3 separate regions of the Homo sapiens genome follow, and all the other regions are reported to be linked to region 1. Evidence: microRNA targets listed by miRTarBase, many of them from high-throughput screens and not tested one by one. Region 1 holds a microRNA gene; each other region holds the end of a gene's coding sequence.
The links. The annotated mature microRNA hsa-miR-204-5p reads UUCCCUUUGUCAUCCUAUGCCU and lies in region 1 at 2,288-2,309, opposite strand. An mRNA with a match to its seed (bases 2 to 7 or 8) in the 3' UTR can be bound and repressed. Matches are read on the target gene's strand: a 7mer-m8 pairs with bases 2 to 8, a 7mer-A1 pairs with bases 2 to 7 and ends in A, and an 8mer does both.

Region 1 (3,270 bases):
TACCAAAAGGAGCTGTATGTGGGAGAGGCTGATATAGAGCACAGCAAGAGCATGGAGGATGAGGTGAATGTGGGCCCAGGAGGATACCAGGGTATGAGCTGGAGGGAATACTAGGGATGGGAGTTGTGGTAAGATTACAGAGAGGAGAAGATTTTTAATCTGAGACTTGAAGGAATTTAGGTTTTGGCCAGGTAGTTAGAGTGAGAAGAGAATGAAATTTTAGTAAATGTCAGAAAGAGACAAAACCACATCCAGTAGGGTATATCATTTAAGGGAAACTGTAAGTATCTTGAAATGGATGGGACATACGATCTACATGGTGTTATGTTAGGAGAAGCTATAAAAACAGATGAAAAATATGAAAGGTAGTTAGCAATGAAATAAGGAAGATATTGGGTTCCATCAAGATAACAGGTTCCTATGTTATGCTAGGAACCTATTGTATCTGACCAACAACAGTAAACATTGCTGACTTTGAGACCAAAATGCCAGTCAAACATTGGCAACCCAAATCTTTCTAATCTGAAAAGGGAGCTCAAAATTCTTCCCTGAATGTAAAAGTGTCTAAGAAGTCTTAGAATGGTGGACAGCTCTCCTGTTGGGACCTACTTGTTTACAAGAACTATCCCAGTCCCTGAACAACTAATTCCAATGTAGAAAAGTCTCTTTGCTGAAAAAAGGGAGGTCTTTAGCTTGAATAGGAAAATGGGTGAGATAAACATGACAAGTCAATACCAAGAAACCAGTTTCGCTAAAATTTGCTCTGTTCCCTCAAAGTTATTTTTTTGGCTTCATTATTACCTTTATTGACAAAGTAACTTTTCATTAACAAGCATGACAAATATTTCAGTTACACAGCCAACTGTGTCAAGTCGTTTCATATAATGAAAAAGCAGGGATATAGATTGTGTTGTTTATTCCTCACAAATTATTCTTTAGAGGGAAGACCCTCTAAAAGGCGGAGAAAGCTTTAAACATGTTTACTTGACAGCACCTGAAAAATGATGTCATTACAGTCTAAAGTGAACTGATCATCAATTTGGTATTTGTGTTTTGGAAGGCCTTTCCCTTGACTGTTTGAGGCAGTAGAAAGTTTGCATGATTGGGCTGAACAGATTGTAGCACCCACAGAAGGAAATAAGATGTTCTTGATATACAGTCATGTGTTGCATAATGACACTTTGGTCAATGACAGACCACAAATACAATGGTGGTCCCATAAGGTAGTAATAGAGCTGAAAAAGTCCTATCACCTAGTGACATCTTGATGATTCTGACCCTGTGCAGGCCTAGTTTAATGAGTGTGTTTGTGTCTTCATTTTTAAGAAAAAAGTTTAAAAAATACAAAGATAAAAAATTTTAAAGACAGAAAAAAGCTCATAGAATAAGCAAATGAAGAAAATATTTTTGTATAGCTGCATAATGTGCTTATGTTTTAAGCTAAGTATTATTGCAAAATAGTCTAAAAGTTTTAAAACGTTAAAAAGTTTACAAAGTAAAAAAGTTACAGTCAGCTAAGGTTAATTTAGTTTTGAAGAAATAAAATTTAAAAAATAAATTTAGTATAGCCTAATTATACAGTGTTTATAAAGTTTACAGTAGTATACAAAAATATTCTAGCACTCACTCAGTGACTCACCCAGAGCAACTTCCAGTCCTGCAAGCACCATTCATGGTAAGTGCCCTATTAAGGTGTACTATTTGTATCTTTTATACTATGTTTTTATTGTGTCTTTTCTATGTTTAGATACACAAATACTTACCATCGTGTTACAGTTGCCTACAGTATTCACTACCACATAGTAACATGCTATACAGGTTTGTAGCCTACAAGCAATAGGCTATACTATATAGCCTAGGTGTGTAGTAGGTTATACCTTCTAGGTTTGTATAAGTACACTCTATGATGTTCATGACAAAATCACCTAATGATTCATTTCTGAGGATATAGTAACCCCATCGTTAAGCAATGCATGACAGTATATGTAACCTGTCCAGGGGAATCTTTGCTTCCTTTTCAAGTCACATGGTTTGGACCCAGAACTATTAGTCTTTGAGAGTATATTTCACTCCTTCCTAATTCCAGAGCTGCTTGGATGAAGTTCTACTATGACCTTTAACATACAGTGTTTTTCATCTCTCTTATGGGACAGTTATGGGCCCAATGATGGAAAATTTCATGTCATGGTTATCCCAATGCATTTGATGATGGTGCAATGATCAAAAAAGATGCCAGTGATGACAATTGAACGTCCCTTTGCCTTCCCAGCCTCCTTCATATATTCTCAGGCATAGGATGACAAAGGGAAGTCCACGAGTCACATGAAGAAAGACTGTAGCCATGGGTACGCGATCAGGAAGTCCTCTGCTTGCCTCCACCCCCACCCTCCTTTCCATCACCCTGTCCTATGGGTACATGATCAGGAGGTCCTCTGCTTGCCTCCACCCCCACCCTCCTCTCCATCACCCTGTCCTATGGGTACATGATCAGGAGGTCCTCTGCTTGCCTCCACCCTCACCCTCCTCTCCATCACCCTGTCCTGTGGGTAAATGATCAGGAGGCCCTCTGCTTGCCTCCAACCCCACCCTCCTCTCCATCACCCTGTCCTATGGATACACGATCAGGAGGTCCTCTTCTTGCCTCCAACCCCACCCTCCTCTCCATCGCCCTGTTCTATGGGTACATGATCAGGAGGTCCTCTGCTTGCCTCCATCCCCACGCTCCTCTCCAGCACCCTGTTGTATTTCTTCCTAATATTGTTTCTCCACCATCTTGCAACTAACCACCATCTTCTTCCCAAAGTTTTGCTTGATGACTCATTCCAACTGAATCAATGCTCAACCTATATTTGGCACAGAGTTGGTGCTCAAATAGTTGCTGAATGGAATAATGACCCTCAAACTCTCCAAGGTAACCAAACTTTAGGGGAGCCTTTTTAAAAAAATGAGATAATGCTTCCATGTGTAGGATGAAAGGAGAAAGTATTTTGGAATTATGTCAGCCTAGGTTTGCACCCAGCTGTGCCACTAATTGGATTTAAGGCAAAGGCTTAACCTCTTGGAGGTGCCATTTCATCAACTGTATAAAAGGAAGAAAATAATCCCTATCTTGAAGGGTTTTTGTGAGTATTAAAAGAGATAGTATATATGAAAATGCCTAGCATGGTGCTTGGAACCTAAATAAATGCTCATTCCCTCCTAGTAGTATCCCAATAGTGCCGTCAAGCTGTCCTATATGGTATCTTTAGGATGATAAATAATAGGGAGTAA
Region 2 (3,000 bases), not on the chromosome of region 1:
CTCTCCTAACATATATAGTGTGTTGCTTGTGAAATTATATGCTTGTTTGGCTGACTGTTATTTAATATTTTTCCTCTAGTCATCGTGGTGCTGTTTGTAACTCTACGGCGGCATAAAAATGAACCATTAATTATCAAAGATGATGAAGACGTTCGAGAAAACATCATTCGCTACGATGATGAAGGAGGAGGGGAGGAGGACACAGAGGCTTTTGACATTGCAACTTTACAAAATCCAGATGGAATTAATGGATTTTTACCCCGTAAGGATATTAAACCAGATTTGCAGTTTATGCCAAGGCAAGGGCTTGCTCCAGTTCCAAATGGTGTTGATGTCGATGAATTTATAAATGTAAGGCTGCATGAGGCAGATAATGATCCCACGGCCCCGCCATATGACTCCATTCAGATATATGGCTATGAAGGCCGAGGGTCAGTGGCTGGCTCCCTCAGCTCCTTGGAGTCCACCACATCAGACTCAGACCAGAATTTTGACTACCTCAGTGACTGGGGTCCCCGCTTTAAGAGACTGGGCGAACTCTACTCTGTTGGTGAAAGTGACAAAGAAACTTGACAGTGGATTATAAATAAATCACTGGAACTGAGCATTCTGTAATATTCTAGGGTCACTCCCCTTAGATACAACCAATGTGGCTATTTGTTTTAGAGGCAAGTTTAGCACCAGTCATCTATAAACTCAACCACATTTTAATGTTGAACCAAAAAAAGATAATAAAATAAAAAAGTATATGTTAGGAGGTTATAAATCTTGTGGAGTGTGAATTAAGTATGTGGAGTGTCTAGAAGTCCTTGGATATTTGATATTTACCTGACCACCACAGACAAAGATTGGGATCCTGGCTAATCCTTAGATAAATGGTTTAAATAGAGGAAAAAATCATAATTAAAAGGTGCTTTCTTAGAAAAAAAAATACGGACCTGCAAGGAATCTGCTGCTGATATGTGTCTTCTGCAAGGATTTTTATGAATGCAAATGGTTTTTTCCCCTTCACCAATAAGGATCCCGCCACAAATGATAAAGCAATACTTGGTCTGCTGTACATTATAACTTTTTGGAGTTTTGAGAGGCCTCCTAGATTATACAGTACGGTGACCACACATTGTACATAATTGTTGGCCCCACTCACTAGAGACTGAATAGCATCTTTAAATATTGTGTCGAGCCTTAAAATATTCACATGTTCGTAATCCATTCCAGGGTGGGGCTTGCCAATTCAGTGGTGGGAGGAGAGAAATCCCATTCAAACATGCTTGTTTTCTAGAAGCAGGATTCCTCGTTCCCTCCTCTTCATCTTCTTCCACAAGGACACAAAGATAAACTGTATCACACAGTGGACTACATAAGAGACAGATGGTTTTATTGCTAGCGCGTGAATTTATTTGTTTAATCCTCGAAATAAATATTTTATTGATGTCCATTAATGCTTTTATTTATTAAGGTCGGTAATCTATAGATTAAGGGGATATATGGGAAAAAACTAAATTATATCCATTAATAATCCTTTAGATTGTTTTATATAAATATATATACAATGAATGTTTAATACATGTACATTTTGATGAGATGAGTATGGCAGGCAATATTATCGAAAGGAGAGCTAATAGTCTCTTTAGAGTAGAAAGTGTTATTGTAACTGGAGATGGCAGGAACAGCATCTTCCCAGACAAACTTTTGGACTGTTTTCTATTTTGTTCATAATCCTAGTATTTGGTGTTTTTACTACAAGCACAAACATCCTAAAGTATATTGATTCCTGTGAATATTTAAACTCTAGACTTTTAGATACCTACATCATGCCCTGCCCAATAAACATGCTTCAATTTACCCCCACAGTTTTAGAGCAGGAACTGATTTGTACATAATTTCACTGTTTACGTTTTTAGCACTCCTATCCCTGATCTTCATGGTGATGCACAGAATGTCTTAGACTCCAAAAAGGAACAGCACTAGAAGATGTGAGCATATTTAATTTGTAATGCAAACCTGCCATTTAGGAGTAGAAAATGTATGATAAAACTCAAGTATTACATGCAGATCATTTTAATTTTCTACTTTGCTTTAATGCAATATTGTTTATTCACTCCATGTATTGTATTCAGAGAAACTCCTGTATTGTTTCCTACTTTGTGAAATATATTTTTATAAATACCTTTGTTGTCATTAATTTTTTTTTCAATCAGTGGAAGATCTATTAACAGAATCATCAACTCAAACTAAAATTCTAGAATACTCAACCAAATCATCCCAAGGGTCACTTTTGTTTGTAAGACTCTTTATTATAGAGAAACAGAGAAGAGAAATGGCTTGCCAGTGATCACACAGCAAGATACCAGCAGGGACATAAGAGGAACATGGAACACCTAAAGGCTAGTCCAGCTGTGTCATTTGGGTCCTTCTGGAAGCAGACGCATTGGGCAGGGAAAACCTTCAGACAAGTTTGCAGACCTAAAACTTGTAACAATAGAGGGATTGGGAGCAGGATTTGGCAAGAGAGTCTTAGACTGCAGTGCGGACCTGGCAAAATCTCTGCCAGTCTGACAGGGGGTTCTAGAGTGAAAACACATCCATTAAAGCAGTCAGGCTGTGGTCCTCTGTCATCTCAGTCATTGGTGCGGGGCTGCTAAGAAGAGAACGGTTTTTGACTCAAAAGCTGAACGCACCAACTTCTAGAGGCCACCTTCACTGTGACAGAAACTGCATGTTTAAATACTATACTAACAATTTATAACTATCCGGTGGCTTAATCAACTTTTTATTGAGTTTCTGTTGCTGAGAATAAGTCATCTTTTATGCGTATTATTACGGCTAGTGAACACTTTTTCTTGAGGTCAAAGGGATGGTCCAACATGACTTTAAAATATACTAGGACTTGGCACAGTGTCTAAAACAAGTGCTTGGTGAATGTAAATTATTAGTAGTAGTTGCAGTAATAACCAATAGTAATATTCCAACTATCTTACACCTTCCAAACCAAGGAGA
Region 3 (3,000 bases), not on the chromosome of region 1:
AGGTATTAGAAAGGATAATTTCCCTCAGGTCTTTGGGTTTCATGTACGATTTTTTTTAAACTGCTTATTTTCAATATGATAAAGGCATTTAAGAAACAAGGCCCGGCACGGTGGCTCACACCTGTAATCCCAACACTTTGGGAGGCCGAGGCGGGTGGATCACCTCAGGTCAGGAGTTCGAGACCAGCCCAGCCAACATGGGGAAACCCTATCTCTACTAAAATACAAAAATTAGCCGGGCATGGTGTTGTGCGCCTGTAATCCCAGCTACTCAGGAGGCTGAGGCAGGAGAATCGCTTAAGCCCAGGAGGCAGAAGTTGCAGTGAGCACAGATCATAGCACTACACTCCAGCCTGGGTGAGAGAGCAAGACTCCATCTCAAAAGAGAAAAAGAAACAAGCTGTAACTCACTAAGCTAAAGACATGGCCCCTAAGCTTAAATGTACAAAGAGAGGGAGAGTGAATATTGAGATATATGTAAAAGATATTGTGAGTCCTGTTTTCTGGACTGCTTATTTTAGATCTATTAACAGATGGACATACTTTTCGTGACCTTTTCTGACACAGGCATCAACTTCAGGGCCATTTGATCTGGATGTTTTTTTAAAAATAGGACTACTCTAGCAAGAACATGGTAGAAAGAGAGTCGCATTTATCAGGCCATCCAATCTAGGAAGGAGGGAAAGAACTGATCAGATCATGGTCAAATTCAAAGCCAGGGAAGTAGCATCAGCAGGAGTAGGATGAGAGTAGGTGGCACAGAAAAGCCACCTGCGATCCACAACCAAGCAGCATTTCCTCTGGATCTTGTTGACAACTTTTGGCTGAGTGTGGGCAGTCAGGAAGAACCAGAGGTCTGCAGGCAAATCCTCCCTGAGTCCCAGCCAGTGGTGGAAGTGCTGGACCGGATGGCAGAGCCTGAAGCTATCTCAAACCATTCCCAAATAAGAAATACCACATGCCACTTCTAGCTTTTATTATTTCGGCCCTGAAGCAAATTAGGCATCTAAGGCCCACAGAGCAGGTGTAGCTTAACAGGAATTGCGTTGGGCAACAGCTGCCCAACACAGTTCAGGAAACTCAGGAAACCTGAGTTTCAGTCCTGTAGAAAACCACCTCTTCAACAGTCGAGGAAATCAGCCTTTACTTGCAACAAATTATTATACATTTCTAAATGCTTTGGTGTCACTGAGTTGATGTCCCAAAGCCATCTGATATTTTTAAACCAGCTTTTTTGCTATATATGTATATGCATAGAATTGCCATGATTTATTACACTTGGATCTGTGGATAGTGAAGAATATGTCTGAAATGTGATGCAAATTCATTCAAGAGATTTAAAGCCAGGAAACAAAGCCTTTGCTTAACTTTTTATTCATCATGGCACAAGATAGAACCTTAAGAAACACCACTGGGAATTTCATCACCAACATGAAAATTAAGAGTAGCATGTTTTATAAAAAAAAAAAAAATCTTTTTTTATAATACACTTTCCCTTCAGAAGTGAAAAAAAATTGCATAAAATACTGAAGCGTATCGCCATCTGCTGGTCAAAAATAGTTATGCACTTGAAAAACTTCAAACTACTAAAGTACGGTAGAACATTTTACAATACACATAAAATTACGAAAGAAAACATTTCCTCAGCCTTTGGCACAATGTAAGTACAAAGCTGTAGGCCTTTTACCAAATGTGATTTAGTTTTTAAGGAATTGCATGTAATTTGGCAAATACTGATTATGGGGCAAAGGGAAAAAACATGTTCTATAATTTGAATATTCTGTGTAGATTCTTAAACACTTTATAGTTGGATTCCAGTTTGTAGTTTTGAAAAATACATAAAAATTATACATTATAAATATATATTATATATGGCCTATATAAAACTGAATTTGATGTAACGTGGGACGGACAACTTCTTAATTTCTTTGTGAGGCACTGCCTTTTTCTTGTTTGGTTAACTGAATCCTTTCTAAACAAGTTCTAAAAATATATTTCGTAATCTATCAGATTTAGCATTTTCCTGAAAACGTATTCAATATCTAAAAGCATTCAGTGATTTTTCTTTTTGTATCTGACTCCTATGTAAAAATATGGCTTCTCATATTCTGCTTCCTCTTGTTAGTGTTTGGTATCGAAGGAAGGGTTATCCCCAGTTATAAAGCTATGGCAAAAGCACAGAAACCCGCTTGTGCACATTCTAGAACATTCTATAGAATCTCATTGTTTAGTATATCTCATTGCTTAATATAAGTGAAGTGATTTTTTTTTTAAAAGTTCCTTTTGTTTTCTCTTTGTGAATATATCATATATGATTATACATAATCTGTTACAGAATACACAATAGTCAAAACCGAAGACACATAAATACGGTTAGGCTATACCAAGCAAGAGTTGTATCTTATATTATAGAGCCAAGAGGGACGTTTTTAGATTGGACATTGCCATCTGGTTTGGGTTCTGTTTGTTTTTCCTAAGGCTGGCTACGCAATGGAACCTTATTCTCAATGGCGGGGGCGTGAGTGCTCTACCTCTGTAGGTGAACTGGATTTCTCTTGTGTCACTTTTGAGAAGTGTGAAAGAAGAACACTAAGTGTGCCAGTGGCCACCACCCACGGTCCCCCCTGGGCTGGAGGGCGGGGGGCTCGGGGCAGGGGGGGCTCGGCTGGGTGCGGGCTCAGACCAGCGTCTCGGGCAGGGCATCGGGGTTGTCGGTCGACAGGAGCTCCCAGATCTGCCAGCGCTCTCTCTGCCAGTCGAGCCAGCCAGCGTCCCCCAGGCGCGGACTGTCCTGCTCGCCCGCTGGCAGGGAGTTGGCGCTGCTCAGTTTTTTCTGCGTGACCTGCTGCTCTCGCTCGGCTGCTTGGCCTCCCTGGTCCGTGGGTGTCTCCACGCCTTCCGGGGGCCCCTGGATCCAGGCTGCCGCTGCCGCGGGCTTCCCTGGGCCCGGGTATGGAGGCGGGGGCCGCTTGTCATCCCTCCCACTCCCATGGGGTCTTT

Region 2: the mRNA of CDH8 is a reported target of hsa-miR-204-5p. Seed matches in the 3' UTR shown: 7mer-m8 at 2,852-2,858.
Region 3: the mRNA of ARHGAP6 is a reported target of hsa-miR-204-5p. Seed matches in the 3' UTR shown: 7mer-A1 at 1,492-1,498.

What each region holds. Positions count from the first base shown.
Region 1 is chr9:70,807,744-70,811,013 of GRCh38, forward strand. It overlaps MIR204 (microRNA 204), which reads right to left and starts at 2,341; the gene lies at 2,232-2,341. The region is part of intron 6 of TRPM3 (transient receptor potential cation channel subfamily M member 3); the gene reads right to left.
Region 2 is chr16:61,651,181-61,654,180 of GRCh38, reverse strand. It overlaps CDH8 (cadherin 8), which reads left to right. Exons shown (of 12, transcript NM_001796.5): 12 at 80-3,000. The coding sequence ends at 573. Among named protein-coding and RNA genes, the nearest start is that of CDH8-AS1, 270 kb to the left of the region's middle.
Region 3 is chrX:11,136,186-11,139,185 of GRCh38, forward strand. It overlaps ARHGAP6 (Rho GTPase activating protein 6), which reads right to left. Exons shown (of 13, transcript NM_013427.3): 13 at 1,359-3,000. The coding sequence ends at 2,678. Among named protein-coding and RNA genes, the nearest start is that of HCCS, 26 kb to the left of the region's middle.